Regions from separate parts of the Homo sapiens genome. Here regions 2, 3, 4, 5 and 6 are each linked to region 1. The links come from fine-mapping of genetic effects on plasma protein levels. A gene starts in region 1. Each other region holds a variant in brackets. All regions are shown on one strand. Distances are between the middles of the regions.

Region 1 (5,086 bases):
TGTCTCTTGAAGGATCAAGGCATCTGAACACACAATTTTCTAACTCGAAGCTATGCGTGGGCGGGGAGGTGGGGGAAGAGGAACAAGAGAACAAACATGTGACAAACAAATTGTCAAAAAAGAGCAAGTGCCAGTTTCAGATGCATAGCACAGGAGCCCATGGGTGGAGCAGGTGGCAAATGAAGATATTTCTGTACCTGCTGTTGAACCGCTCCAAGCACAGTGGGATTCCGGGTCTAAAAGAGTTGCAGTTGCTGGGTGGAAATGAAAGTCAACATTTCAGGGCCGGGTGCATGGCTCATGCCTATAATCCCAGCACTTTGGAAGGCCGAGGTGGGCAGATCACTTGAGGCCAGGAGTTCGAGATTAGCCTGGCCAACATGGCGAAACCCCGTCTTTACTAAAAATACACAAATTAGCTGGGCATGGTGGCTTACGCCTGTAGTCCCAGCTACTTGGCAGGCTGCGGCATGAGAATCGCTTGAACCAGTAGGTAGAGGTTGCAGTGAACCATGATCACGCTACTGCACTCCAGCCTGGGTGACAGAGTGAGACTCTTGTCAAAAAAAAAGAAAGCAAGAAAATAAGAAAGCAAGAAAGAAGGAAAGAGAGAGAAAAAAGAAGGAAGGAAGGAAGGAAGGAAGGAAGGAAGGAAGGAAAGAAAGAAAGAAAGAAAGAAAGAAAGAAAGAAAGAAAGAAAGAAAGAGAGAGAAAGGAAGGAAGGAAGGAGAAAAGAAAGTCAACAGTCAACATTTCAGAGATCCCAAGATACCAACACTGACCGTGCCTGCTGCTCTTCCATCCTCCTCCACCCTGCGCCTTTGAGGTGGAATTGCGTCCTCTGTGAGCAGGGCTTTGTTAAGAGATCCTAATTAAGGCCAGGCACAGTGGCTCATGCCTGTAATCCCAGCACTTTGGGAGGCTGAGGTCACCTGAGGTCAGGAGTTCAAGACCAGCCTGCCCAACATGGTGAAACCCCATCTCTACAAAAATTAGCTGAGCATGATGGCAGGTGCCTGTAATCCCAACTACTTGGGAGGCTGAAGTGAGAAAATAGCTTGAACCCAGGAGGCGGGGTTGCAGTGAGCCAAGATCACACTATTGCATTCCAGCCTGGGCGACAGAGCTTTTGTCTAAAAAAAAAAAAAGAAAAAAAATCCTGATTAAGCAGAAGCCTTGATGCTAGTCCCAGAAGCATCCTGAAATTTCCAAAAGAAATTTCCCCCGCGGTTAAACTCAGAGCAACTTTTGGACCCACCAAGCTCTGTGAAAATCATTTTCTCTTCCAAAAACTGATGGGACCAAAGCTGATCCCAGTTTCAAATAATTATCAAAAAATTGGAAACGAAATATGATCAGAAAAGAAGAAAGTTGAAAAAGAAAATCCTCATCACCCAAAGACAACAACCATTAATATTTTGGTAATTATTATTCCAAATATCTTTCTATGCATACAGACAGACTCACACACACACACACACACACACACACACACTTTTTTTTTTTTTTTTGAAACTGAGTTTCACTCTGTCGCCCAGGCTGGAGTGCAGTGGCGCGATCTCGGCTCACTGCAACCTCCGCCTCCTGGGTTCAAGCGATTCTCCTGCCTCAGCCTCCCTGATAGCTGGGATTACAGGTGAATGCCACCACGCCCGGCTGATTTTCTGTATTTTTAGTAGAGACGGGGTTTCACCATGTTGGCCAGGCTTGTCTCCAACTCCTGACCTCAGGCGATCCACCCGCCTCACCCTCCCAAAGTGCTGGGATTACAGGCGTGAGCCACCGCGCCCGGCTACACACACACTTTTTTAATGGGCCTATGTTTTAGCACTCGCTTTTCTGTTTCTCAGTGTGTTGCAAACACCTCGGTGTCGATACACACCATTCGGCAACGTCCTCCTAAAGGGCCGCATAATATTGCGCGTCGTGGCGTGTGCCTTACTGGGAAGCTACTGCTGTCCAGGTGAACACCACAGCCTTCGGGGTCAGAAAGACAGCTTTCCCCAGAACAAGCACCTGAAGCTCTGGGGCCTGCCGCTCCCCGGGAGAGAAGTACGTGGAGAAGGGCAGCACGGATCCGCCGGGATCCCCGGGGGCATTAAAGGGAATCGCGTGTGTAAGGCGCGGAGCTCAGCATCCGGCTCAGAAACGCGCTCGGATCCCGCCAATGGCATTGAGGCCGCGTAGCCAAACCGGCCTTGAACTCTCCCTAATCCTGCCAAAATGGCCCGTCCTGGAGCACTGGACTGGCCGTGGGTTATTGATCATCAGCCGGTTTCTTCCCCTCCCCTGCCCTTCCCCCGTGCACGGATTTACTGATTTTTTTTTCCGGGAATTGAGTAAAACAAAACTAAGTGCAGATGAAGCAGAGGTACGGGCGAGTTTCGAGCGCGGGGACCGGCGCGCTCCCCCCCCCCCCTCCCCCCGCGGCGGGGCTGTCCCCAGGGACCTTCTCAGTGAATCCTAGGCGGCAGGGACGGGCCCGCGGCTCTGCGGGCCATTGGCTGCCGACTGCGTCACCTGCCCGCGGTGGGCTAGGAGACGGGAGGCGGGAGGCGGGAGGCGGGGACCTGGGCCCGGGCGGGGACGCCGCGGCAGGAAGGCCATGGCGGGGCCCGAGCGCTGGGGCCCCCTGCTCCTGTGCCTGCTGCAGGCCGCTCCAGGTAAGGGCGCGGGGCCGCGGGAGGGAGGGGGAAGAGGGCTCCCCGGGCCGGGCCGCGCCTACCCTCGGACCCGGAGCTCCTGGGACAGGCACGGGGTCCGCAGCCACCCGAGCCGGGTGCGAATCGGCCCTGCCTACGCGCCCCCAGTTTGCTTCTTCCCAGGACTGAACAGAACCGGGTCTTTGATATTCCTCTCCCGCAGGAAACGAATCCAGTTTCCTAATGCTTCCAGCTTCAGGAGAACTGGAGAAAAAAGACAGCGGCAGTTTGATACTGCATATTTTTTAATAAAGTGCTTTTTAATGTTTCCTAAAGAAAGCACTGATCCCTGCGTGAAAACCACACTTGACCCTAAAGTGTGGACAGCAGGGAAAGTGGGACCGATTGATGTCCCTTCCCGTTCCTGCCAGGCCTCTGGTGGGACGGAGCTCTGGTCGCCTGTGCCCTGCTTTCTAACAAGACGGCTTTCTTTTGGTGGTGGTTGTTGTTTTGTTGTTGTTTTGTTGTTGTTGTTGTTGTTGTTGTTTTCCCACCTCTACTGATGAGTAAGGTGTCAGGTACAAAATTCCTCGCCGTAGGACCCAACCACCAAACCTCACCGCCCACGACTCCAACCGAAGCAGGGAAGAGAAGGTCCAGAAATCGCCCCCAGGATATTTTCCTAGTCTTGGACTCACAGTTTAAAGAGCTGTAAAGGTCCCTGGGCATAATCCAATCATCATAAAAGCCTATATTTATTCAGCAACTTCTTTGTGCCAGGCACCGCATTATTCTGGAAGCCTCACGACCCAGCCATCCTCGGAGGTAGATATTATTTTTACTTTTCCGATGGGAAAACTGAGGCTCAGAGCAATTCAGGGAATTCCTCAAGAAGGATGGCAGAGGTGAGGCACACAGAAGAGAGAAGAGGGGCTAAAGCAAGCCTGGCTAGCTTTTGCCTCCAGGGTAGGCACGTGGGACAGGCTGTCCATCCACTGGGTCACTAGGCCAGCCAGGGATGCTCCAGCCCCCAGTGCCCACAGCAGCGTTCTCTGTGGCTGATGAGGGACCGTGTACCTGTGTGTGGAGGGAGGGTGGGGTCTTCTGTTCCCCTTTCACTGTCAAACCCAGACCTTCTTGTACTTTCACCTGATAAGTATTTAATATACACAACACTAACTATGGTGTGATGATTTAGGAGTAAGTACAGCCAGATCTAAGTTCAAATACTGGCTCCCACACAAACTGACTGTGTAGCCTCAGGCAAGTTAGTTAGCATCTGTCTCTGAGCCTAGCGCCCTTTCCATGGAAGCAGAATGAATGACACCTACCCCATAGGGTGGTCTGTCCCAAGGGTGATTGAGGTTTTACATGTAAAGAGCCAAACTAGTGCCTGGCATCCTTTGAAGGCTTCATAGAGGAAAGTTGCTCTAACTGCTGTTTTTCTCATGTGACCTAGCTCGAATCTGGGGACTGTCCTGCCCATAGGATACCTTACAAGTGGCTTGCAGACAGCCTGGTCTCCTGCTGGTCACCCGTTAGGAAGTCCAGAAGCTGGGAGTAGTAATAGCACTAGCCTCGTGGTGATACAGTCCCAGCTAGAGGACACAGGATGAGGTGGAAGCAGGCACCCACTTTTGGGTCTAGAAGGTGATGGGTAGGCAGCCGAGGCTGGGGACAGCCATCCACAGAACTGGACCCTCCCTCCCTGATGCCATTTTGCAACCCGTATGGATTTCCATCATGGCACATGGGACACTTCAGGACCCTGAATTCTCCATGGGACCATGAGCTCCTATAGGGCAGGAATGAAGTTGTGTTCTTCTTTGAAACCCCTGGCACACCGTGGTCAACAGATCTTGTTTGACTCGTAGTGGTCAATAGATGGAATAGTTGGAATCATAAAGCTCAATAGACCCCATGAGAACCTAGAAGACAAAGTACAGTCAAGAGCTCGGACTTTGGAGTTGGCTAGGCCTGGACTGAATCTGATTCTACAACTTAATAGCTGAGAGGGCCTTGGTTTTCCCATCTGTAACGATTATAATTATTATAATGAATACCTACCTCCTAGGGATGTAATGAGGATTAAAAGAGAAAGTGCAGGTAAACTGTTTAGCACAGAACCTGGCTCACAGAACACAATACACATTAGCTGCTATTATTATTATTATTATTTTATTTATTTATTTTGAGACAGAGTCTCACTCTGTCACCCAGGCTGGAGTGCAGTGGCGCAATCTCGGCTCACTGCAACCTCCACCTATCGGGTTCAAGCAATTCTCGTGTCTCAGCCTCCCAAGTAGCTGAGATGACAGGCGTGTGCCACCATGCCCAACTAATTTTTGTATTTTTAGAAGAGACGTGGTTTCACCATGTTGGCCAGGCTGGTCTCAAACTCCTGACCTCAGGTGATTTGCCTACCTCTGCCTCCCAAAATGCTG
Region 2 (5,086 bases), 420 kb after region 1:
ATTTTTAGTAGATACCGGGTTTCACCATATTGGCCAGGCTGGTCTCGAGCTCCTGACCTCGTGATCCGCCTGCCTGGGCCTCCCAAAGTGCTGGGATTACAGGTGTGAGCCACCACGCCCAGCCTATTTTCCTCATTTTTAGAGAAAGAAACTGAGAGATTAAGTGACATGCTCAAGTCCACATGGCTAGAAAGTGTGGGGTTTGAAGCCAAGTCTGACGTCTGACTCCACAGCCTGTGCCCTTAGCTGCCCTTCTCTGAGCCTTGTGGATTACCTAGAGCCCAGGCTGTCATGATTACCTTTGGAGGTTTTTTTGTTTTTTTTGGTCAGCATACATTTTTCTCTGGATTTTTAGTTTTTTCCAATAAGTTTTGGGGGAACAGGTGGTGTTTGGTTACATGAATAAGTTCTTTAGTGGTGATCTCTGAGGTTTTGGTGCACCCAACCTTTGGAATCTTTAATGCTGTTAGCAAATATTCCCAATTCTCTGCATCCAGGAACATGGATGGATTGTGCTTCCTTGACCCCATGAATTAAGGTGCAGCCAATGCAATATGATGGCAATGATAGATGTCACTTCTAGACAAAACTTAACAGTTATATCAATATTGTAATTAATATTATTTTTTATTATTATAATTAATGTTAATAATATATTAATATTCTCTACTTGCCTCGAAGATCTTACAAGCATGGGAATGGCACCTCCCTTAGCCTGGGCCCCTGAGTGAGGATGACATAAAGCAGATCCCTGTCAGACTCACAATGGACAGGCGGTGAGACCTCTGTTGTTGCAAGCCACTGAGATTTGAGGGTTGTTGCTGCAACAGAACCATGTCCAAGGCTTCTCAACCTTGGCTCTATTTACATTTTCGGCCAGATAATTCTTTGTTGGGGGAGGGGCGCTGTCTTGTGCATTGTAGCATGGATAGCAGCATCCGTGGCCTCTGCCCACTAGATGCCCATAGCTCCCCAACAACAGCGACAACCAAAATGTCTCCAGATGTTGCCAAGTGTCATACTGGGAACAAAGTCACCTCTAGTTGAGAACTACTGCTGAGCCTATTCCTTTTTCCTTTTTTTTTTTTTTTTTTTTTTTGAGACAGGGTCTCACTTTGTCACCCAGGCTGGAGCTTTGTCACTCAGTGCAAACTTTGCTTCCCAGGTTCAAGAGATTTTCCCACCTCAGCCTCCCAAGTAGCTGGGACTGCAGGCATACGCCACCACACCTGGCTAATTTTTGTATATTTTGGTAGAGACGGAGTTTCACCATGTTGGCAGGCTGGTCACAAACTCCTGACCTCAAGTGATCCACCTGCCTCACCTCCAAAGTTCTGGGATTACAGGCATGAGCCACCGCACCTGGCCGGCCATTTTCTTTAAATCCAGAAGAGGTGGCAACACTGGGCCCTGTCTTCAACCCGGAAGCAATAAAGTGGAGCTGTGTGAATAGCTCCATTTTCTTTCTGTTCCCATCACAGCCTGCTGTCACATACCAAACCCCTGGTATTTGAGTTTGTGGCCGTAAGAAATTAGGTGGTCTTCCTTTTTAGTGGTTGTTAGAAGCTGCAGTTTAAGGGACCCGAAAAAATTAGAATGGGGCCCCAAAACAGAAAAGTCAAACTAACTCTGAGGAAGCAGGCACTAAGATTTCATTTATCAGGAAGGACTTGTTGACCTCAAAATAGTTCTTAGCTTGTGACCCTGAAGTTTGAATTCCCATCAGTAAAAAACAAAACCTTTTTCTTTCATTCCACATTTAGAGGGAAAGAAGGAGGGACACTAAAATGTGGCTCCCCTTCTGTCATTGAATCCTTATAAGAATTCCTGCAGAGTGTCATAATTCCCATTTTACCAATGAGGAAACTGAGGCTCAGAGAGGTGTGGGAGTGGTGGAGGCAGGATTTGAACCTGGGTCTCATCCCAAAGGTCATGCATGCTTTTTCCACTACACTAGACATTCCCAAACCAGGCCGCTCATCGAGTTCATTGGGGGAAGCCTACAAAAGCGTACCTGTTTCCAGATCCTACCTTTGACCTATTCAACCATATTTCTTCAGTAGGGCCCAGAAACCTGTACTTTAAAGAATTATTTGTGGCCGGGCGCCGTGGCTCACGCCTGTAATCCCAGCACTCTTGGAGGCCGAGGTGGGTGGATCACGAGGTCAGGAGATCAAGACCATCCTGGCTAACACGGTGAAACTCCGTCTCTACTAAAAATACAAAAAATTAGCCGAGCGTGGTGGCGAGAGCCTGTAGTCCCAACTACTCGGGAGGCTGAGGCAGGAGAATGGCGTGAACCGGGAGGTGGAGCTTGCAGTGAGCGGAGATCGCGCCACTGCACTCCAGCCCTGGTGACAGAGTGAGACTCCGTCTCAAAAAAAAAAAAAAAAAAAAAAAAAAAAGCCAGGCGCGGTGGCTCACGCCTGTAATCCCAGCACTTTGGGAGGCCGAGGCGGGCAGATCACGAGGTCAAGAGATCGAGACCATCCTGGCCAACATGGTAAAACCCCGTGTCTACCAAAAATACAGAAATTAGCTGGGCATGGTGGCGCACACTCGTAGTCCCAGCTTCTCGGGAGCCTGAGGCAGGAGAATTGCTTGAATCCGGGAAGCGGAGGTTGCAGTGAGCCAAGATCGCGCCACTGCACTCCAGCCTGCCAATAGAGCAAGACTTTGTCTCAAAAAAAAAAAAAAAAAAAAGAATTATTTGTGCAGTTATTTGATAACTGTCTCCCTACTAGATGAAAGCTTCATGAGGGCAAGGGCCATGTCTCTTTTTTTTTTTTTTTTTTTTTTGAGACGGAGTTTTGCT[C/G]TTGTCCAGACTGGAGTGCAGTGGCACAATTTCGGCTCACCGCAACCTCCACCTCCTGGGTTCAAGCGATTCTCCTGCCTCAGCCTCCCAAGTAGCTGGGATTACAGGCATGCACCACCACGCCCAGCTAATTTTGTATTTTTAGTAAAGACGGAGTTTCTCCATGTGGGTCAGGCTGGTCTCGAACTCCTGGCCTCAGGTGATTCATCTGCCTTGACCTCCCAAAGTGCTGGGATTACAGGCATGAGCCACCATGCCTGGCCTTTTTTTTTTTTTTCTTTTTTCTTTTTTGAGACAGGGTCTTGCTCTTTCACCCGGGCTGGTGCGCAGTGGGATGATCTTGGCTCACTGCAGCCTCAACCTCCCCGAGTTCAAGCAATCCTCCCACCTCAGCCTCCTGAGTAGCTAGAACTACAGGTTCATGCCACCATGCCCAACTAATATTTTATTTTATTTTGTTTTATTTTTATTTTATTTTGAATGGCATGATCTTGGCTCACTTCAACCTCCACCTCCCAGGTTCAAGGTATTCTCCTGCTTCAGCCTCCCGAGTAGCTGGGATTATAGGCATGTGCCACCACACCCGGCTAATTTTGTATTTTTAGTAGAGATGGGGTTTCTCCATGTTGGTCAGGCTGGTCTTGATCTCCTGACCTCAGGTGATCTGCCCGCCTCAGCCTCCCAAAGTGCTGGGATTACAGGCATGAGCCACCGCGCCTGGCCTAATATTTTATTTTTTTAGAGACAAGATCTCACTATGTTGCCCAGGCTAGTTTCAACCTCCTGGACTCAAGTAATCTCTCACCTTGGCCCCCCAAAGTGCTGGGATTACAGCTGTGAGCCACTGTCCCCAGCCTGCCATGTCTGACTTAGTCAGTGACACAGAGTGGGAAGCAATGCAAGTATTTGCTTACTACTAAATCAACAAGCTTCCTAGTCCTGACCTAGGGACCTGCTGTGAAGAGCTATTCCACTGTGGCAAATTCTCTGGAGCAGTTCTCAAACTTCAGTGTACATTTTAAGAATTGCTTAGTGTCGGCCGGGCGTGGTGGCTCATGACTGTAATCCCAGCACTTTGGGAGGCAGAGGCGGGTGGATCATTTGAGGTCAGGAGTTCAAGACTAGCCTGGCCAACATGGTGAAACCCCGTCTCTACTAAAAATACAAAAATTAGCCGGGTTGTAGTGATGCATGCCTATAATCCCAGCTACTTGGGAGACTGAGGCAGGAGAATCGCTTGAGCCTGGGAGGCGGAGGTTGCAGTGAGCTGAGATCACGCCACTGCACTCCAGTCTGGGGAACAGAGCAAGACTCCATCCCCCCAAAAAAAAAATGCTTAGTGTCAGGCCAGGCACAATGGCTCATGCCTGTAATCCCAGCACTTTGGGAGGTCGAGGCAGGTGGATCTCACCTGATCTCACCTGAGGTCAGGAGTTCAAGACCAGCCTAGCCAACATGGTGAAACCCATCTCTACTAAAAATACAAAAGTTGGTGGTGCACGCCTGTAGTCCCAGCTACTAGGGAGGCTGAAGCAGGAGAATCACATGAACCCGGGAGGCAGAGGTTGCAGTGAGCCGAGAGTGATCAAGCTACTGCATTCCAGCCTGGGTGACAGAGTGAGACTTCACCTCAAAAAAAAAAAAAAAAAAAAAAAAAAAAAAAAAAAAAAAAAAAAAATCGCTTAGTGTCTCAGTCATTTCAGGCTACTGTAACAACTTACCATAGACTGACTGGCTTAGGCAACAAACATTTACTTCTCACAGTTCCAGAGGCTGGAAGTCCAAGATCAAGGCGCTGGCCAATTCTGTGTCTGGTGAGGGCCCTCTTCTTGGTTTGCAGACTGCCGTCCTCTCATTTCCTCACATGGTGGAGAACAAGGAGCAAGAGCAACTCTCATTTCTCTTATGAGGGAGAATCCTATTCATGAAGCCTCTACCCACGTGACCTAATTACCTCCAAAGGCCTATCTAATACTGTCACACTGGGTCTTAGGATTTCAGCATAGGCATTTTGGGGGGACACAAACATTTAGTCCATAACACTTGAGTTGCATCTTTTTAAATGCATATTCTGAGGCCCCAACCCAAGACTCTGTGCTTGAGAAACAGATACAGTGATATAAAATTTTGATGGCTGGAACTTTCCTTAGTCTTTGAAAAGAGTTGAGACAATAGACATCATAGAGAAGTTCAGGGGGCCGGGCGAGGTGCCTCATGCCTGTAATCCCTGCACTTTGGAGGCCAAGGTAGAGTGATTAAGCTCAAGAGTTC
Region 3 (5,086 bases), 13 kb before region 1:
TCAGCACGGTCTCCCTCCATCTTAGTCAAGCCCTGTGCCCAGCACAGGGCCGAAAGACAGAAGATGCCCACTGAGCCCCCAGTGAACACCTGAGTCTGAAAGATGAGTGTGGTCTGAGTGGCGAGTGACTCACCTGTGCCTGAGGCTTAGGAGACCCACCTCCCAGGTTCCCTTTAGCTCGCTGTGATCTGAGCTTGGGAGCATCGTGGAACAGGTCCCTGCCTTTTATTCCATCTGCACAGCAGGGTTAGTCCTGCCCGGCTCCATCTCTGAAGAGGAGGAATCAAAAAAAGGGATTTTACAGAGTTGAGGGGGAAGAGAGAGGGCGCAGGAAACCTATTCCAAGCTGGCATGTCCTGCACGTGCCTGCTGGCTTTGGGGAAGTTGGCGGCCGCTAGGGGCCTGGACAAGAAGGAAAGGTTGGCCAGGGCCTGGGTTGCCAGATTCAGCAGCTTGGCTGGAGGCTATAAGCAGGAGGAGGCCAGGAACTGGATCTGAGAAGAGAGGACCAGTCCCAGGAAGAAAGCTGAGACACTGCTGTCTGGGAGGAGCCAAGAGCTTGGTTTATTGTACCAGGAAGAAAAGTCTAGGCCTCTGCCAGGGCAATCATCAGAGAACACTGCTCCAGGGAAAACTGCCTCCCACTTCCTGGACCTCTGTGGGCAATAGAGAAGTACATGTCAGCAGTGCCTCCTGCTGGACAGCCCCAACATTACACTATTTGTCCAATGTCAGAAACAGAATGTAAGACGGATGTATCTGGAATGTTCAAGCTGGAGTAACACCATCCAACAACTATTACTGCTGCTGCTGCCACTTTTATTGATGGTTGACTGTGTCCCAGGCACTGTGCTAAATAATTTTATTGGATGATCTCAATGTTCACAACAGCCCTATGAAATAGGAACTATTACTAATCCAATTTTTCAGATGAAGAAACTGAGAAACAGTTTTTTTCTGAGGTTTCAAGTTAGCTGGTAGCAAGATTAGCTGTGCAGCCCAGGCCTCTCTAGCCCAAAAGCCCATGGTTTTTTGTTGTTGTTGTTGTTTTTTGAGACGGAGTCTCACTCTGTCGCCCAGGCTGGAGTGCAGTGGCGCGATCTCGGCTCACTGCAAGCTCCACCTCCAGGGTTCACGCCATTCTCCTGCCTCAGCCTCCCAAGTAGCTGGGACTACAGGCACCCGCCACCACGCCCGGCTAATTTTTTGTATTTTTAGTAGAGACAGGGTTTCACCATGTTAGCCAGGATGGTCTTAATCTTCTGACCTTGTGATCTGCCTGCCTCAGCCTCCCAAAATGCTGGGATTACAGGCGTGAGCCACGGCGCCCGGCCCAAGCCCATGGTTTTAACCGCATTCTTGGGTATCTCAACCAGTTCAGGATGATGGAGAGTTTTCGTTTTTGTATCATCTCCACTTGGTTGGTAGAGGCTGCCTAGAGCTCTGGGTTGAGAGGATTCCTGAGTGCTGTGATGAATTTGTGATATCTGCCAGCGGCACTGGAAGGGATGTGGCCGCATGCGTGTGAGTTATGTTTTCATCTCTGATCTAGTCCAATCTATTGTATACTGTGATCCTTATAGGACCCTGAGAAAAGGAATCAAGGCTAAATCTTTTTTTTGAGACTGGGTCTTGCCCTGTTGCCCAGGGTGGACTGCAGTAGTGTGATCACAGCTCACTGCAGCCTCAACCTCCCAGGCACAAGTGATCCTCCTACCTCAACCTCCCAAGTAGCTGGGACCACAGATGTGTGCCTCCACACCTCACTAACTTGTTTTGTTTTTTGTAGAGATGGGGTCTCCCTATGTTGCCCAGGCTGGTCTCAAACTCCTGGGTGATCCTCCCACCTCAGTCTCCTAAAGTGTTAGGATTACAGGCGTGAGCCACCGAGCCCAGCCTAAGGCTCAGTTTTCTGACCTCTGTCTTTACTCAATCACTCGGTGACCTAAAAGGCATCTCAAATGTAGCATGTCTAAATATGGAACTCTTGATTTGCACCTCCAAACCATCCCTCCACCATCTTCCCCACTAAGTAAAAGGCACCGCTAGTCTTTGTTGGCTCAAGACAAAAAGCCTTAGTATCACCCTTGACCTCCTTTTTCTCTCACCCCTGACATCAAATCTTTCAATACATCTCACTGGTTCTCCCCTTGAAATATATCCAGAATCCAGCCACGTCTCACCACCTTCACAGCTGCCACCACCATTGTCTTCCCTGGACTAATGTAGTAACCAATCTTGCTCCACGTGTCCTTACCCCCTGTATTAGTCTGTTTTCATGCTGCTAATAAAGACCAGAGACTGGGTAATTTACAAAGAAAAAGAGGTTTAGTAGACTCACAGTTCCAAGTGGCTGGGGAGGCCTCACAATCATGGCAGAAGGCAAAAGGCACGTCTTACGTAGCAGCAGACAAGAGGGAATGAATGAGAGCTAAGCAAAAGGGGAAACCCCTTATAAAATCATCAGATCTTATAAGACTTATTCACTACCATGGGAACCGTATGGGGGAAACTGCTCCCATGATTCAACTGTCTCCCACCAGGTCCCTCCCACAACACGTGGGAATTATGGGAGCTACAATTCAAGATGAGATTTGGGTGGCGACACAGCCAAACATATCACCCACTACACCTTAGTCTCAACTCAGCAGACATCCTTAGGCCTTCTCGGTTTTTCTTTCTTTTTTTTTTTTTAATTATACTTCAAGTTTTAGGGTACATGTGCACAACGTGCAGGTTAGTTACATATGTATACATGTGCCATGTTGGTGTGCTGCACCCATTAACTCGTCATTTAACATTAGGTATATCTCCTAATGCTATCCCTCCCCCCTCCCACTTCTCGGTTTTTCAAAGCACTTTGGCATAAGTTACACACACACACACGCGCGCACACACACACACACACACACAGAGTAAAGCGAGGCAGGAAATTGTCACTCCCATTTGACACATGAGAAAAACTGAGGCTTGGAAAGGTGATGCAAAGACATCAAAGACACAGCGGGGGAGTTGCCCCAGCTCTTACTGTGACGCCATACACTGCCATTTCCCTTCTGGACATGACCCTCTGTCTCCCACAGCCTC[C/A]TATGGGTACATCCGAGAGTCTCCCAAGAGGCTGCAGAACGTCAGGTAAGGAGAATGTCAAGGAAGCCAGGAGAGTTGGTCTTCTCTCTGCCTTGGAGGGCCCCAGTCTAAGAAAAAAAAAACGTTATCTCTTTGGTCTAATCCGCGGTCTCGCAGTCTGGACCACTTTCCTTTGGTATGTGGTGCCCCCTGGTGCTCACTCTTAGGAAATGCAGCTGGTTATCTAAGCTTTAGGGGAGAGGGGTGAGCTTTCATGGTGGAGGTGATGCCTGGGGGCTCTTCTGACCACCCTCTCAGAGGAGCTCCCTCCCAGCACAACTGTTCCATGCCTTAGAGACCAGCGTGTGCGTCCAGGTTGATGAGGGCCACACTGCTCCTTTAAAAATTCACCAATCCACGACTTCTAGTGGGAACCCAAATTGGTACAGCCTTTTTGAAAAGTCATTTAAAATAATAATAATAAAATAAAATAGCTGGACATGGTGGCTCATGCCGCAATCCCAGCATTTTGGAATGCTGAGGTGGATGGATCGCTTGAGCTCAGGAGTTTGAGACCAGCCTGGGAAACATGGTGAAACCCTATCTCTACAAAAAATACAAAAAATTGGCCAGTCGTGGTACACGCCTGTGGTCCCAGCTACTCAGGAGGCTGAGGGGGGAGGGTTTCTTGAGCCTCGGAGGTCAAGACTGCGGTAAGCCAAGATTGTGTCACTGCACTGCAGCCCAGATGACAGAGTGAGATCACGTCTAAAAAAAAAAAAAAATTAACTTGGGAGGCCAAGGTGAGAGGATCACTTGACACCTGGAGTTTGAGACTAGTCTGGACAACATCACAAGACTCCATCTCTTAAAAAATTAAAATACTTAGCCGGGTGTGAAGGTGCATGCCTGCAGTCCCAGCTACTTGGGTGGCTGAGGCTGGAGGATCGCCTGAGCCCAGTTCAAGGCTTCAGGCAGCCATGATTGTTCTGCTGCACTCCAGCCTGGGTGACAGAGCGAGAACCCATCTCTAAAACAAATTTTCTTAGTTAAAACTTTAAAAAATATTTTAAATGACATACTCATGATATAATGTGAGCTACTAAACATATATATAAAATACTGTATATGTACTAAACTCACAAATGGTAGCAATGAGTCTCTCTGCAGAGTGAGATTATATTTTATTTTTATTCTTTATAATTTTCTATACTTTCCCAATTTTCGGCATTCAGCATGTTTCACTTTTCTAAAGTATAGTTTTGTGAAGGAAAAATTATAATAAATCCCTTTCCATCTGGTTTCCTGTCCCTGTCATCTGCTGTATGCTGGTCAGAACATCTCTGGAGCACTATTCAGTGAGCAACAGGAGAGTTAAAGATTTGTCCACCAGTGAGAACACGTGTGCATTACAGTGGAGGAGCTTCTGAACGCCTTGCTTTACTCAGGGATTCCAGAGTCCCAGCAGGGGCCGGAGGAAGAAGAACAGACTCCTAGAGAGGAAGAAACTTTGACCTCAAAAATGAAGAAACAGAGGACCAAAAGGAAGCTCTTGACCAAGATTCTTAGGCAGATGGAGACAGGGTTGGGTTTAGCATTGGTCACACAGCAGATGGAGACAGGGCTGGGTCTAGTGTTGGTCACACAGCAGATAGTCAGGTTGCCTGACCCGAATTCCTGAGTTCTTCCCCCACACCAGCAACCTGGAACTTCTAGAAAAAGCCCATGAACACGCAAATGAACACAACAGTGAGAAACCTCTCTTGGCAAAACATTATAAGCTGGCTGAGACCTAGGATTGACTAGGATGTTAGGAAAAGGATAGTCTCATATATCCTACCGGTAGGAAGTTGGTTCAGCCACCATGGAGAGCGACTTGCAGTATCTGTAGTATCTGTTAAATTTTAAAATGCACACACCCCGCCAGGAGCAGTGGTTCAGGCCTGTAATCCCAGCACTTTGGGAGGCCAAGGCAGGCAGATCACCTGAGGTCAGGAGTTTGAGACCAGCCTGGCCAACA
Region 4 (5,086 bases), 91 kb after region 1:
TGCTTTTCACATACGATCCATAATCCCTGCCACCATGCTTGAGGGAAGCACCCCATGTCGCAGGTGATGAAACAGGCTCAGAAAGTTAAGGCTCTTGTACAGCTACTATGCGACAGGGCCTGGTGTGAGCCATTTCTCTCTATCTGGGTTGTTTCCCAAACACCAAACCCTCCACCTCAACCAACCCAGGCCTCAGAGACACAAAGATAAGCAGAACACTCATCTTACCCTTCAGAAGTGGGGAGACATAAATATCTGACCATATAAGGGAGGTGCCCCATGGACTCCACAGTCAAGGAAGGTGCGCAGGCCCAGGGGGACCTCCGGGGCAGGCAGGACTGGCCCTGGAAGCAAGAGGGGTTCCTGTGCTGAGTGACCAGGGGCAAAAAGGAGGCACCAAGGGGCCTCTGCTTGCTAATGGGGCCAGAGGTGCCACATCCGACCACCTCCTCTCTGTCACCAGGGTGCCCCTGGGATGGAGCTGGCCCAGGCTTCCACTGGGAACATGACAGGGTTGGCCTGGTTGGTGGTGAGACCCACACCTAAGACTGGGAACACCTGGGTGTCTGGCTCAGTTCTATCCAGATTGCAGCCTGCCTTGACCAAGTTTGTCTGCTGCTCTCTGAGAAAGGAGGAGGCTCCCGCTCCAGGATCCTTGTTTGAAGCTGAGTTGAGTTCCATTTGCTCTGTGACTCTGGGAAAGTCACTTAACCTCTCTGATCCTCCACAGTCAGCAATAACTGCAATGTGGCATGTCATATTTTTAAAGCACTTTCTCCTGAGACGGTTTAGGTGGTGTCGTGTCCCCAGTTTTTCAGAGGACACCGAAGCATGGAAAGGTGCAGTGGCCAACCAGAAAACACACAGCTTTTCAGAGATAATGACCAAAGTCTCTTCCTGGCACCGTGAGGCTTTCCTTAGTTCCAGCCTTTCCCACCCACACAGGGGACTTGTGTTTCCCATGGAGCCCAGCAGTCTTGGGAGGAACTTCTCCCTCTCTCCTTTTCAGATGCGCCATTGAGGACTCAGCAACTTACACTGTGCGAGTGAAGAACGCCCACGGCCAGGCCTCCTCCTTCGCCAAAGTCCTCGTCCGCAGTAAGTCCTCCCAACCCCAACAGGCACTCCGGGCCACAGCAAACCCAAGCTGGGCAGACAAGGACATGGGTCTGCGTGAGACCTGAGGAAGGGCCATAGGCACAAGGCTGTTCAGCCTGGCATTGGGTGACCAGGGCAGCCCTGGAGACTCCCGCTTCCCTGGGGGCCTTCACAGCAAGCGATAGTCTCCTCCATCAGCCTGGGCTGATGGTGGAAGGTGAGTGAGGCAGGATCACCTGTCCCTGTGGGTTGGTGTCAAGAGCAGCTGGGAGATGGGAAGGGAACTGACCTCTCCTGAGTCTTCACTGTGTGCCAGACACCCTTGATAGTACCTGATTCCATCCTGAGCCAGCCGGTGGCAGGGCTGGGACTTGAACTCAGCTCTCTCTGTAGAGTCATCACTGGCATGGTGGGCACCTTTGTGTGAACTGAATGGATGAATTAGCGAAAGGGGCCCCTTTTCTGCAGGCAGGTGCAGCTCCCACTCCAGGGCACATGGCTTGGCAAATGGAAAACAGACTGAATTTTAGCCCCCAAGTTGCTCTCTCAGGGGATAACTTTGCACAGAGCACAACCTACACAGTTATTCAAGGCGAACCCACCTGCCCGCCATGCCAAAGAGCATGCTTGGCCCACCGGATTGCGCTTAGGTTGGGATCCATCTCAGGGCCTCTGGGAGGGTGGTCTGGCCCCACCAACCCTGCTGAGGGGTCCTCAGGGACAAAAGCCAAACCCCAGCAACTCCCCACCTGACCCCCACTGCCCCATGTGGGTCCTTTTGCACATTTTCCAGCTGGGCTTGGGCCCCTCCTGGAGGTCACCCCATGGGCATCTGAAATCACAGCATAAAGCAGGTAGACACTCAGGAGTCAGCCAGACCTGAGTTCACATCCTGGCTCTGCTGCCAACTGGCTGTGTAAATCTGGGAAGCCACCTCACTTCCCTGAGCCTCTATTTCCTCATCTGTGAAAGGGAGAATCCTACAATCCTACCACCTCTCTCAGATGCCCGAGTTGATTAAATGAGATGATACGTATAAGCCTTGGCATGTGGTACCCATTCCCATGACCAGGGCAGGGCACTGCCCAAGGGGGTCACACCTTTGGGCCCAGAAGAATGCCGTGCCCTGAGTTCCAGGACCCCCGGGAGAGAGAAGCCCACGTGTGCACACATACACACACACACACACGTGCACTCATACACACACGCGCACTCATACACACACTCCTGAGGCAGCTGTCTTGGGCAGTAGACAGGTGGA[T/A]CCCAGGCCACCCTCCCTGCCTCTCATCAGACCTTGTTAAACTGTCCTGCACAGCCCTCTCCACCCACTGTCCTGTTCCCTAAATAGCTCTTAGGAGGCAGATCCTGCTGCCAGGCCAAGCTCTTGTGCAGAAATTTGAGCTGTCCCCACAGTCCATGCCCAGAGTCAAGCCCAAGGTCAGGGACTGGGGCCCTGCCTCCCTCTGCCCACCCGTCCTTCCCACCACTCCTTCCAGATCCCTGTCCCTCTCTCCATCAAGGCTGGCAACTCCAGGGTCCACCAGGCTTGCTCTTGGCCCCAGACTCCAGCCAACCCTCTGCTTCTCCTACTCCACTCACCGCCACTACCACCCTCTTCTCTGCTTTCATCTCCGTAGCCACTTGGGTGATTTTAGTGGCCTGGGGGACAGGAGCCCTGAGTTCCAATCCTGACTCTTCCACTGACCTGTGTGATCTCGGGCAGCCTCCTGCCCTTCTCTGGACCTTGCTCAGGAAGGGCCTTTCCAGGGACCAGTGTCATGTCATAGCTTCAGGCTGCTGGGGTGTTGTCTGGACGGCTGTGCCTCAGTTTTCTCTTCTGTTTGAGAGGATAATAATAGTACCAACTGACAGGGCTGTTGTGAAGATAGAATGAGTCAATGTGTTTATGTGTTTAATTGGCTCGTTCAATCCTCAGAGCATGGGGCGAGCACTGTGTGAGTGAGAGCTGCTGTTACTATTCTCTGGTGGTCTGTGGCAACATTACCTTGGATTTCACCCTTCAGCCCCTGGATGCCTCTCAGTGCTGCCCCTCCCCCACCACTCTCCCTGATCCCACCAGAAATCCCCGCGCCTCTGAGCGGGCTTGACCGCTGTGAAGACAGTGCATAATCCTGGGGGCAAGTTTGGGTAGGGAAAGGAAACCAGCATGTATTGAGAACCTGCCATGTGTCAGGCTATGGCTGGTGGCTTGATTCATGTGAACCCGCTCGTTCCTTGCTCCAGGTAGGAATTACTGTCCCATTTTACTGCTGAAGAAACTGAGGCACAGAGAGGTAAAAGAACTTTCCCAAAGCCACAAGGGGAAGCCACCAACAGACCAGGACTCAAACTCATATCCAAAGCCCATGTCCCCAAAATAGCATAGGAATGTGGGCTCTGAACCTTCTCCAACTCTGTTTGCCTTTGGTTTTTCAGCTTACCTGGGGAAGGATGCTGGCTTCGATTCAGAGATCTTCAAAAGTAAGTCGGCTGGGGGAGAACGGGACCTGGGATTCTTTGTTCAGGCTTTGCTCCCCGACCCCCACAGTCCCTGTTTAGAATATAGCCATCCCCTGCCCATAAAAGGACGTCCACCGGGGTTTGTCTATGAGCTGGTAATACCTGCACCTGACTTCTAAAGGCCGCAGGGTACCCCAGAGCTGTCCCCAGCTGCTGAGCTGTTCTCTGACCTAAACTGGGTTTGAAAGGCAAAGCCAGAAAAACCAACGGACTTGGCCTTGGGATGTTTGCTCTTTGGCTGCTCTGACCACTACCTAGATAAGTCTCTTCCCCTCCTACCCCAAGGCCAGGTCCCCTTCTCCTAGTCAAGACCCAGAAGAGAAGGGATGCCCCAGAAATTTCCTCACTCCTAAGTCCCAGGCCAGGCTGGCTGCCTCAAAAACTTCTGCCCCAAATTTCATTCCCACGCCAGGATCGACGTTTGGCCCCAGCGTGGAATTCACCTCGGTGCTGAAGCCAGTCTTTGCTCGTGAGAAGGAACCCTTCTCCCTGTCATGCTTGTTTTCGGAAGATGTGTTAGATGCTGAGAGCATCCAGTGGTTCCGAGATGGTAAGGACCCCCAGTCCTGGCCCCCAGCCTCCAGAGCTGGCCCCTCCAAAGCTCAACTCAGAGCCAGAGAGGACCCCTAGCGGACAGAGACTCTCCCCAACCAGTACCAACTGTGCTAAAGTGCTGAAGAGGCAGAGGAGAGCGGGAGTGCAGCCAGGTGTGGTCAGATCATGCCACCCCATAAATGGCCACCAAGCATCTGTGGGGTGCCAGGCCCTGGGTTAGGGCTGGGGTAAATGGTAGGGGCAGATGTGCATGAGCCCAGGGGGCTGTGTCCACCTGGGAGGAGGGAGGAAGCCATCAGCACAATTGTAGCCGCTGGCACTGACCAGGCACCTGCTCAGCCATTTGCATGCATCATTACCTCCCTAAGAGTGAGGGAGGGAGGCCAGGCGTGGTGGCTCACACCTGTAATCCTAGCACTCTGGGAGGCTGAGGTGGGTGGATCACCTGAGGTCAAGAGTTCAGGTCTAGCCAACATGGCAAAACCCCATCTTTACTAAAAATACCAAAAATTAGCCAGGCATGTTGGTGGGTGCCTGTAATCTAGCTACTCGGGAGGCTGAGGCAGGAGAATCGCTTGAACCCAGGAGGCAGAGGTCGCAGTGAGCCGAGATGGCACCATTGCACTCCAGCCTGGGGGACAAGAGCAAGACTCCATCTCAAAAAAAAAAAAAAAAAAAAGTGAGTGAGGGCACTCAAAGCAATGGGAACAGAGCCCCAAGATCGGGAGGCAGGAGGGCACCACAAGTGCTCAGGGCAGGCTGCAACAGTTGCATCGGACTTTGCAGAGTCAGGGTGGTGGTGCAGATACAGTTGCTGACCCGTGGGCTGGGAGGCCTCTGGGGATGTCTCAGGCGAGGCCTTGAGAAGCCTGGTCAGAGCCAAGGCAGGAAGACGTGGCCCAGTGAGGGAGGA
Region 5 (5,000 bases), 57 kb after region 1:
GTTGCCCAGGCTGGTCTCAAACTCCTGGGCTCAAGAGATCCTCCTGCCTCAGCCTCCCAAAGTGCTGGGTTGACAGGCATGAGCCACCGCACCCGGCCAACTTAAGACATTTTTGAAAAGCACAGAACTGCCCACTTTGACAAGAGCATAAAGACATGTAAAACAGTTTCTTAAAACATGGTCCCAGCCAGGCACGGTGGCTCACGCCTGTAATCCCAGCACTTTGGGAGGCCGAGGCGGGCGGATCACGAGGTCAGGAGATGCAGACCATCCTGGCTAACACGGTGAAACCCTGTCCCTATTAAAAAATACAAAAAATTAGCCGGGCATGGTAGTGGGCGCCTGTAGTCTCAGCTACTCAGGAGGCTGAGGTAGAAGAATGGCGTGAACCCGGGAGGTGGAGCTTGCAGTGGGCCAAGATCGCGCCACTGCACTCCAGCCTGGGCGACAGAGCAAGACTCCATCTCAAAAAAAAAAAAAAAACACACACACAAAAACCATGGTCCCAAACAAACAGCATCAGAATCTCCTGCAGCACTTGTTTAAAATGCAGATTCTTGGGTCCCCTTCCAGTCAACTTCATCAAGTTATTGCACTTGCATCCCTGGGATCTGAATTTTAGTGAGCAACCCAGGCGCTTCTTCCCCAACGCAAAGCTTGAGAACCTCTGACGTGGAGGGACCCCGGGAGATAAACCTCAGAAGACTGGATGGGACTATGCTGTAGAAGGGATAGGGTGGTGGAGGGGACGAATTTTTGTTTCTTTCGGTAGTTGGGGGAGCCACTAGAGATTACTAAGCAGGGAGAGTCCTTATCACAACTATTTTTTGGTAAATATTTAGGGTCTTATTAAATATTTTATTGTTGATTTCTAATTTAATTCAATTTGTGGTCAGAGAACACACGCTGTATGATTTCAGTCCTTTTAAATTTATCGAGGCTTGTGTTATAGCCCAGCCTATGGCCTGTCCTGGTGAACGTTCCTTGTGCACCTGAAAAGAATGTATATTTTGCAGTTGGTTGGTGGAGTGCGCTATAAATATCAATTAGGTAAAGGTGATTAATTGTGTTATTCAGATCTTCTATGTCTTTCCTGATTTAGGTGAGAGGTCAATTGGTCGTTTAATTGTTGAAAATAGTAAACTCTCCAACTATAATTGTGGATTTGTCTATTTTCCCTTTAATTCTGTGCATTTTTGCTTCGTGCATTTTGAAACTCAGTTATTAAATACATATATATTTATGATTGTTGTATCTTCCTGATAGATTGAACCTTCTGTCATAGGAATTGTTCCTTTTTATTTGTAGTCATACTCTTTGTATTGAAGTCTACTTTATCGATATTAATATAGACACTCCAGCCTTCTTATGGTTTGCATAATATATGTTTTTACATTCATTTTCAATCTGCCTCTGTTATTATATTTAAAATGTATCTCTTGCAGACAGCTCTGACAGCCTTTACCTTTTTTTGACATTAATTCACATGCCATAAAATTCATTCTTTTAAAGCATACAATTCAGGTGTTACTTGCCTATTCACAAAGTTGTGAAACCATCACCACTATCTAATTCTCCCTTATCAATCTTTCTTCAAGTTCTCTATTTTTTCTGTCATTTCCAAAATGTTTTTGAGATAATTCAGTGGGTTTTTAAATTTCAGATAATAATATCTAGAATTTTTCAACTCTAAAGTTCCTAGATTTTATAGTTTCCATATTCTACTGAGATTTTCTATTCATTCATTCAATATGAGCTTATTTTGTTTCACTTCCTGGAGCATTGTTATACCGCTGCTTTAAAATCATTGTTGGCCAGGTGAGGTGGCCCACGCCTGTAATCCCAGCACTTTGGGAGGCCAAAGTGGGTGGATCACTTGAGGTCAGGAGTTCAAGACCATCCTGGCCAGTGTGGTAAAACCCCATCTCTACTAAAAATACAAAAATCAGCTGGGCATGGTGGCAGGTGCCTGTAATCCCAGCTACTCAGGAGGCTGAGGCAGGAGAATCATTTGAACCTGGGAGGCGGAGGTTGCAGTGAGCTGAGATTGCACCACTGCACTCCAACCTGGGTGACAGAGTAAGACTGTGTCTCAAATAAAATAAAATCATTGTCTGCTAATTCAACATTTTGGTCATCAGGGTCAGTCACTATTATCTTTTCTCTTGAATATGGGTCGCATATTCTTTCTTTGTATGTCTAACAATTTTGAAATGTATCCTGGACATTGTGTTGAAATTACTGTAGATTCTGTTATATTCCTCCAAAGAGTGTTGGTTTGGTTTCATCCGGTTTTGGTAGGCAATTAATTTGGCTGAACTCCAAACTCTGAAATCTCTCTTCTTTTTTTGTTGGTTAACTTTACCTGGGCTGCTTGGAGTCTACCCCATTCATGCCTACTTTAGGGGCCGGTCAGGGATTTGAGCAGAGTTTATATACAGAGTTTGGGCCTCCTTCTCTACACTCTCCCCTGTCTGTGCTTTCTCCCCTCATTTTCCAGCTGCTGTGATTATTCCAAGCCCTGCCTTTTGGGTATTCAAGCCACTGAGAATAAAGGGTTTCTGTCTAGGTTTAGCCATTCCACAGGGTGTAGACTGAGGTCTGCCTTCAGGCTACAAGACAGTAAAAATGGGAAATGTACCCATCGACATTTCTCCTCTCTCCAATATATGCCTGCTTTTATTTTCTCTCCAATGCTTTTAAGTAGTTGGTTTTCATTTTGCTTAGAATTTATAGTTGTTATTTTGGGGATGTTTGGTCCAATAGAAGATATAAATTACTAGGATTAGAATGAAGAAAGATCAAATATGGAAATGGAAGAGATATCAGGCTGGCAAGTCAAAAGATTATTGCAATGGTATAGGCTGGAA[A/G]TGAGGGCCTGAACCAGGATGGAGGTCGTGAAAAACTTGGGAAAGGAGGAATCAGGGCCTTGGCAACTCTCCTGGAGTTATGTCTCATGATATGTAATGTGTCCAGTTCCAACCACATGAGTTCCACAAAACAATAAGTTAAAAAATTTATTTATGTACTTCTTCACTCACTGTCACCACCATCCCCATAAACACACACAAAAGAAAACAGTAAATTACCCTCAACCTTGGCCTCCATGTGCCTGAAAAAGAGAAGGCAGAGCTGAAATACAAAGAGCCAAAGAAAATTCTCAGTTTTTGAACTCCCGAGAACACAGGTTCTGGCCCTTTAAAGGAAGATTTCTGGATCCTTTAAGGGCAATTTGATACCAAAGATATGAGAGGGGATTTGTCCAAAATGGCTTCAAGGTTTAGGCCCTGGAGATTAGAAGAAGAGTGATGCTATTATCAAAATTAGAGAATCAAAAGCAGATTTGGGTTTGGGGTCTGGGATGGGGCCAGCCCCAGAGAGAGGAGGGCAGCATGTTCGGACATGTTGACTTAGAGATGCTCACATGGTACTATTCAGCAGGGAGCTGGCAGGGCCCATCAGAAACTCTACAGCTCTTCCTGAGATAAGTTTGGGAGTTATCCACACATCGGTGCTCACAGCAGCCATGGGTTCAGATAAGATCACTAAGTGGCTGGAGAGTATGTGAGAGAGAAGGAAATGGTTGAAGAGCAAATCTTGCAGAACAACATTGAGGGGCTAAAACCAGCGAAAGACCAGTCAGAGAGGTAGGAGGAGAGCCAGACAGGATAACATGTGGCAGCCATGGGAGAGGAGTTCTGGGTCAAAAAGGTGAGAGATACACAGAAGAACGAGAATCAAAACACAGTTCCAGCAGAAGGATTGGCAGATGCAAAGAAACAAGGGCTTTCTTATGCAAGGTAGGTGTTTACCCGAGTGGCAGGTATCCAGCATTGATGAGCCTGCAGAGCCAGGTGGGCTGCAGAGACAAATGAGTCTGGACTGGAAGCCAGGCACCAGGACTCTATTCTGTAAATATGGGTGAGGCCATCAAAGCCTTTTGAATAGAAGAGCATTATAATGAGATTGTCTTTTAGAAAGATTCCTATAAACACTAGGATGAATATGGAAGTGAACAGGGGCAAACCCAGAGATGGGCGACCATGAAAGAGGCTACTGCTAGAGTCCAGGCTGAAGCCTTGAGGCCCAATTAAGGCAGAAGCAATGAGGAAAGAAAGAAAGGAATGGGTGTTCAAAAAGTTTATGATGTTTAACCACAAAAAGGTGAAGGACAAGAGGAATTGGAAGAAGGAGGGATAGTGGGAGCGTGGGAGGGTGGTGGAGGTCATAATGACAGCTGCCATTATGTGTGTATAACCACACATTTTATATATATATATATATATGTATATAACCACATTATATAGTGTGTATAACCACTGCCTATGGGCCAGACACTATTGCAAGTGAAAGGCACACGTGCTTGGAGACTGATTGGATTTGGGGATAAAGCAGAAGGGAGGGGAATGGAAACAGAGGCTGAAGACAGACCCATCAGCATCAAACCAGAATCCAGGAGGAGCGAGCAAGCTTCCTTGGGCTCTATGTGGAGATCGGTGTGTAACAGGAATCACATTCCATTCTCTGTCCAATTCAGCACCTTGGAGGGAAGCAGAGAGAATATGAGTTCTTCGGCCTGACCCCTGACACAGAGTTCCTTGGCACCATCATGATTTGCGTTCCCACCTGGGCCAAGGAGAGTGCCCCCTACATGTGCCGAGTGAAGACACTGCCAGGTGAGTTCGGCTGAAACCAGAGGGAGGTGGGGCTCCCGAATTCAAGTCTTGACTCTTCTCTTTCCTCCCTGTAACCAAGGTGAGACTTGGCAACACTCTAGAAAACCATGGAAGGGTTATCAGTGTGTTATTGAAGTCAATCTTTGTTTATCCATAAAAGAGTTGGCTGATGAGTTATCAAAGCAAATGTTTGATTCTCACCCTCCAGCCTATGTCTGGATTTCCCCTCTCTGACAGGCCTTATGTGTACCTTGGCAAAGCAAACTCACCTTAATATTAACCCAGGTGAGATATACTGGAGGGAAAATCTGCAGGGGGGAAGCA
Region 6 (5,086 bases), 32 kb after region 1:
CCCAGTCCCATCTGGTGTGTTCTGGGATCATCTCCCAAAGAAACTGCTTACACTTGAAGCCTTGTCTGAGGTCTGTTTCTAGGGGAATTCAGATGATGATAATTATGCTTCAGGAAAGCCTAAATTTTCTGCTTTTCTCTCCCCTACCCAAATCAGGACTTTTCTGGACACACACACCCTGTGGCAACCTTTCAGCCCAGCAGACCAGAGTCCGTGAATGACTTGTTCCTCTGTCCCCAAAAGGAACTGACCAGAGGGGTCAGGCCGACGCCTCGAGTCAGGGCCCCAGCCACCCAACAGACAAGATGGAAGAAGGACCTTGCAGAGGACGAAGAGGAGGAGGATGAGGAGGACACAGAAGATGGCGTCAGCTTCCAGCCCTACATTGAACCACCTTCTTTCCTGGGGCAAGAGCACCAGGCTCCAGGGCACTCGGAGGCTGGTGGGGTGGACTCAGGGAGGCCCAGGGCTCCTCTGGTCCCAAGCGAAGGCTCCTCTGCTTGGGATTCTTCAGACAGAAGCTGGGCCAGCACTGTGGACTCCTCCTGGGACAGGGCTGGGTCCTCTGGCTATTTGGCTGAGAAGGGGCCAGGCCAAGGGCCGGGTGGGGATGGGCACCAAGAATCTCTCCCACCACCTGAATTCTCCAAGGACTCGGGTTTCCTGGAAGAGCTCCCAGAAGATAACCTCTCCTCCTGGGCCACCTGGGGCACCTTACCACCGGAGCCGAATCTGGTCCCTGGGGGACCCCCAGTTTCTCTTCAGACACTGACCTTCTGCTGGGAAAGCAGCCCTGAGGAGGAAGAGGAGGCGAGGGAATCAGAAATTGAGGACAGCGATGCGGGCAGCTGGGGGGCTGAGAGCACCCAGAGGACCGAGGACAGGGGCCGGACATTGGGGCATTACATGGCCAGGTGAGCTGTCCCCCGACATCCCACCGAATCTGATGCTGCTGCTGCCTTTGCAAGGACTACTGGGCTTCCCAAGAAACTCAAGAGCCTCCGTACCTCCCCTGGGCGGCGGAGGGGCATTGCACTTCCGGGAAGTCCACCTAGCGGCTGTTTGCCTGTCGGGCTGAGCAACAAGATGCCCCTCCCTCCTGTGACCCGCCCTCTTTAGGCTGAGCTATAAGAGGGGTGGACACAGGGTGGGCTGAGGTCAGAGGTTGGTGGGGTGTCATCACCCCCATTGTCCCTAGGGTGACAGGCCAGGGGGAAAAATTATCCCCGGACAACATGAAACAGGTGAGGTCAGGTCACTGCGGACATCAAGGGCGGACACCACCAAGGGGCCCTCTGGAACTTGAGACCACTGGAGGCACACCTGCTATACCTCATGCCTTTCCCAGCAGCCACTGAACTCCCCCATCCCAGGGCTCAGCCTCCTGATTCATGGGTCCCCTAGTTAGGCCCAGATAAAAATCCAGTTGGCTGAGGGTTTTGGATGGGAAGGGAAGGGTGGCTGTCCTCAAATCCTGGTCTTTGGAGTCATGGCACTGTACGGTTTTAGTGTCAGACAGACCGGGGTTCAAATCCCAGCTCTGCTGTTCACTGGTTGTATGATCTTGGGGAAGACATCTTCCTTCTCTGCCTCGGCTTCCTCATCTGCAGCTACGCCTGGGTGTGGTGAGGGTTCTAGGGGATCTCAGATGTGTGTAGCACGGAGCCTGCTGTGTCCTGGGTGCTCTCTACGTGGTGGCCGGTAGAATTCTCCATCTATCCAGGCTCCAGGAGACCCCTGGGCATCTCCCACCTGTGGCCCCTAAACCCAGAGTGACTGAGAGCACTTAACATTCAGCTTGTCTCATCCCCAGTCTACCTCCTTCCTTCTACCCTCACTGCCTCCCAGTCAGGAGAGTGAGCTCTCAGAAGCCAGAGCCCCACCCAAGGGGACCCTGGTCTCTCCGCCTTCACCTAGCAATGGGAACCCTGCTTCCCAGGGGAGGAACCAACTGCTCCACCTTCTAGGGACCCAGTTTGTTGGAGTAGGACAGTAACATGGCAGGAATCGGACTTCTGGGCCTGTAATCCCAGTTTGGATGGCACGTTAGACTCTTGGTTGACCGTTGTGGTCCTTAGAAGTCCCATTCTCCCTTCCAGTTATGAGAAACCAATGCCTTCTAGATTCAGGTGACTATCCTTACCTGGGGGTGCTGATGCATCCTCAGTTAACCTACACCCACCTGAATATAGATGAGCGTAGCTGAGTTTTCACCCGTAGGACCGAAGTGTTTTGTGGTGGAGTATCTGAACAACCTTGGCTCTGTGGCCATTCAACCTGCCAGGACTAACATTTCTGGATTTGTGAAGAAGGGATCTTCAAAGCCATTGAACCCACAGAGCTGTGTTGCTTTAAAGCCACCACAAGGGTACAGCATTAAATGGCAGAACTGGAAAAGCTTCTTAGGGCATCTCATCCAGGGATTCTCAAACCATGTCCCCCAGAGGCCTTGGGCTGCAGTTGCAGGGGGCGCCATGGGGCTATAGGAGCCTCCCACTTTCACCAGAGCAGCCTCACTGTGCCCTGATTCACACACTGTGGCTTTCCACGTGAGGTTTTGTTTAGAGGGATCCACTACTCAAGAAAAAGTTAGCAAA[C/T]CACTCCTTTTGTTGCAAAGGAGCTGAGGTCAAGGGTGGCAAAGGCACTTGTCCAAGGTCGCCCAGCAGTGCTGCTCTGATGACTTGTGCACATCCCCAAGGGTAAGAGCTTCGATCTCTGCACAGCCGGGCCAACCTCTGACCCCTTGTCCATGTCAGTAAAATATGAAGGTCACAGCCAGGATTTCTAAGGGTCAGGAGGCCTTCACCGCTGCTGGGGCACACACACACACATGCATACACACATACGACACACACCTGTGTCTCCCCAGGGGTTTTCCCTGCAGTGAGGCTTGTCCAGATGATTGAGCCCAGGAGAGGAAGAACAAACAAACTACGGAGCTGGGGAGGGCTGTGGCTTGGGGCCAGCTCCCAGGGAAATTCCCAGACCTGTACCGATGTTCTCTCTGGCACCAGCCGAGCTGCTTCGTGGAGGTAACTTCAAAAAAGTAAAAGCTATCATCAGCATCATCTTAGACTTGTATGAAATAACCACTCCGTTTCTATTCTTAAACCTTACCATTTTTGTTTTGTTTTGTTTTTTTGAGTCGGAGTTTTGTTCTTTTTGCCTAGGCTGGAGTGCAGTGGTACAATCTCGGCTCACTGCAACCTCCACCTCCCGGGTTCAAGTGATTCTCCTGCCTCAGCCTCCCAAGTAGCTGGGATTACAGGCACCCGCCACCACACCTGGCTAATTTTTTTGTATTTTTAGTAGAGACGGGGTTTCACCATGTTGGCCAGGCTGGTCTCGAACTCCTGACCTCAGGTGATCCGCCCGCCTCGGCCTCCCAAAGTGCTGGGATTACAGGCGTGAGCCACCGCGCCCAGCCAAACCTTACTATTTTTTTAAAGAATTTTTTCCAGAGTTTAATTTCTGACATAGCTTAAGTTTTCCAGTAACTCTAAACTCCATCTCCTTTATCGTCATTAAGTCATTCACAAAAAGCCAGGAGAAGCATTTGGAAAGGGCATGATAATCAGTATAATAATTTGCCTTGTGTGGTCAGCACTTAACTGTTTACAAAGCCCTTTCACGTGCACAGCAGGTGGGAACTGCGCGGTGTGGGCTGGGCCTGCGCTGGAAGCATATCCCGTGAAAAGTGTTAGTGCCTTAGGTGAAAGCAACATGTATCCCTTTAGACTACTAACGGTATATGTTGTTCTTATGTATTTGTATTTATTTCTATTTTTTCTATGTTTATGTCATATTTAAACGATATCCTACTGCTTGTTGGTATTACCCTAAACTGTTTAAATAAAGAGCTCTATTTTTAAAGAAAAAAGGTACAATTGAATGGAAAAGCGTATGCTCTTATCTTTTTTTTTTTGAGACAGGATCTCACTCTGTCATGCACGCATGCCCCACCAGGCCTGGTTAATTTTTTTGTTTTTGTAGAGATGGAATCTCCTATGTTGCCCAGGCTGGTCTCAAACTCCTGGGCTCAAGCAATCCTTCCCGCCTCGGCCTCCCAAAGTGTTGGTTGGGATTATAGGTGTGAGTGACCGTTTCTGGCCTATGCTCTTATTTTTCAAAGGCTCCTCACCTCTCCTCTGGGAAACCTAGCTGTTAAGGCTACAAGGGTCAGCCAGGCAGGGTGGCTGATACCTGTAATCCCAGCACTTTGGGAGGCCGAGGCGGGCAGATCACGAGGTCAGGAGATCGAGACCGTCCTGGCTAACATGGTGAAACCCTGTCTCTACTAAAAATACAAAAAATTAGCCGAGGGTGGTGGCGGGCGACTGTAGTCCCAGCTACTTGGGAGGCTGAAGCAGGAGAATGGCATGAACCCGGGAGGTGGAGCTTGCAGTGAGCCAAGATCACACCACTGCACTCCACCCTGGGCAACAGAGCCAGACTCAGTCTCAGAAAAAAAAAAAAAAAAGACTACAAGGGTCTTGAGTCGGGTCCCCAGAAGCAAACCCAGAGAAAAGGTAGAAAGGTAGAAAGCAGTGCAGTGATCCAGGTAACGCCAGGAGGGGAGTGTGGAGGCAAGATGGGGCGGAGGGTAGGGGAGGAGGGGAGTGTGGAGGCAAGATGGGGAGGAGGGTAGGGGAGGAGGGCAGCCAGGCAAAGTGTGTCATCAACAGGTCCCTGCTGTGGGCAGCTGGACCTCAGTGCCCCTGGAGAGCTCTGGAAGTCAATGTAGGATGCAATTCAGATTTGGTCCCACTGCCAGGGGCAGGAGCCAGGGAGTCTAGCTACTCCCTCCCATCAGTCCAGTGTGGAGGCCGTTCCCTGAGGCAGAGTTGCAGGTACTTGCAGTTGGAATCCACCAAGCTGAGTGCACAAGAAAGGGGAGTGCCATGGGGCTGAGGGCAGGGTCCCCAGCCAATATCCCTTGTTGTAGTGAGGCTGGAGCTGACAGCTCACCCAGCTGCAACTATGGTCCATGGAAGGATATGGAACAGCACCTGTGCGCCTAGCTTTGCATTGCCAAACTCATTCCAGCAGCTCTCCATTAGCAAGGGTCTCCCAGTTTCCAACAACT

Which allele goes with the higher level. Positions count from the first base shown, and alleles are read on the strand shown. Strength reflects both the effect of a copy and how common the allele is. Not every link is listed here.
In carriers of allele G in region 2, the plasma level of the protein whose gene starts at base 2,565 in region 1 tends to be lower than with C alone (weak association).
For the plasma level of the protein whose gene starts at base 2,565 in region 1, allele T in region 4 goes with a higher level than allele A (weak association).
As copies of A replace G in region 5, the plasma level of the protein whose gene starts at base 2,565 in region 1 goes up (weak association).

What was found. PIP is the posterior inclusion probability: the model's chance that the variant is causal. The UK Biobank Pharma Proteomics Project read protein levels with antibody pairs (Olink). The fine-mapping took linkage between variants from a reference panel, not from the people measured, so its PIPs are less certain.
Region 2: its variant is fine-mapped to the plasma level of the IFNLR1 protein (UK Biobank, PIP 0.99).
Region 3: its variant is fine-mapped to the plasma level of the IFNLR1 protein (UK Biobank, PIP above 0.99).
Region 4: its variant is fine-mapped to the plasma level of the IFNLR1 protein (UK Biobank, PIP above 0.99).
Region 5: its variant is fine-mapped to the plasma level of the IFNLR1 protein (UK Biobank, PIP above 0.99).
Region 6: its variant is fine-mapped to the plasma level of the IFNLR1 protein (UK Biobank, PIP above 0.99).

The regions. Positions count from the first base shown.
Region 1 is chr1:24,184,768-24,189,853 of GRCh38, reverse strand. IFNLR1 (interferon lambda receptor 1) reads left to right here and starts at 2,565. Exons shown (of 7, transcript NM_170743.4): 1 at 2,565-2,663. The coding sequence starts at 2,606. RefSeq lists a silencer at 2,303-2,792.
Region 2 is chr1:23,764,614-23,769,699 of GRCh38, reverse strand. All of the region lies in intron 3 of ELOA-AS1 (ELOA antisense RNA 1), which reads left to right. Among named protein-coding and RNA genes, the nearest start is that of ELOA-AS1, 11 kb to the left of the region's middle. RefSeq lists a silencer at 3,607-3,901. The variant C/G (reference allele first, on the strand shown) is at 2,816.
Region 3 is chr1:24,197,647-24,202,732 of GRCh38, reverse strand. It overlaps LINC02800 (long intergenic non-protein coding RNA 2800), which reads right to left and starts at 2,493. Exons shown (of 3, transcript NR_027087.2): 1 at 2,342-2,493; 2 at 134-269. RefSeq lists an enhancer at 3,062-3,171. The variant C/A (reference allele first, on the strand shown) is at 3,088.
Region 4 is chr1:24,093,935-24,099,020 of GRCh38, reverse strand. MYOM3 (myomesin 3) reads left to right here. Exons shown (of 37, transcript NM_152372.4): 7 at 1,010-1,098; 8 at 3,535-3,579; 9 at 4,031-4,168. LOC124903878 (a long non-coding RNA gene) reads right to left here and starts at 2,975. Exons shown (of 3, transcript XR_007065543.1): 1 at 2,804-2,975; 2 at 1,431-1,597; 3 at 1,047-1,180. LOC105376864 (a long non-coding RNA gene) reads right to left here and starts at 315. Exons shown (of 4, transcript XR_007065542.1): 1 at 229-315. The variant T/A (reference allele first, on the strand shown) is at 2,360.
Region 5 is chr1:24,127,817-24,132,816 of GRCh38, reverse strand. IL22RA1 (interleukin 22 receptor subunit alpha 1) reads left to right here. Exons shown (of 7, transcript NM_021258.4): 5 at 4,538-4,676. Among named protein-coding and RNA genes, the nearest start is that of IL22RA1, 13 kb to the left of the region's middle. The variant A/G (reference allele first, on the strand shown) is at 2,871.
Region 6 is chr1:24,152,962-24,158,047 of GRCh38, reverse strand. IFNLR1 (interferon lambda receptor 1) reads left to right here. Exons shown (of 7, transcript NM_170743.4): 7 at 157-3,880. The coding sequence ends at 918. LOC124903879 (a long non-coding RNA gene) reads right to left here. Exons shown (of 3, transcript XR_007065544.1): 2 at 2,856-3,036; 3 at 1-793. Among named protein-coding and RNA genes, the nearest start is that of IL22RA1, 12 kb to the right of the region's middle. RefSeq lists enhancers at 3,358-3,955, 3,956-4,553, 4,554-5,086. The variant C/T (reference allele first, on the strand shown) is at 2,598.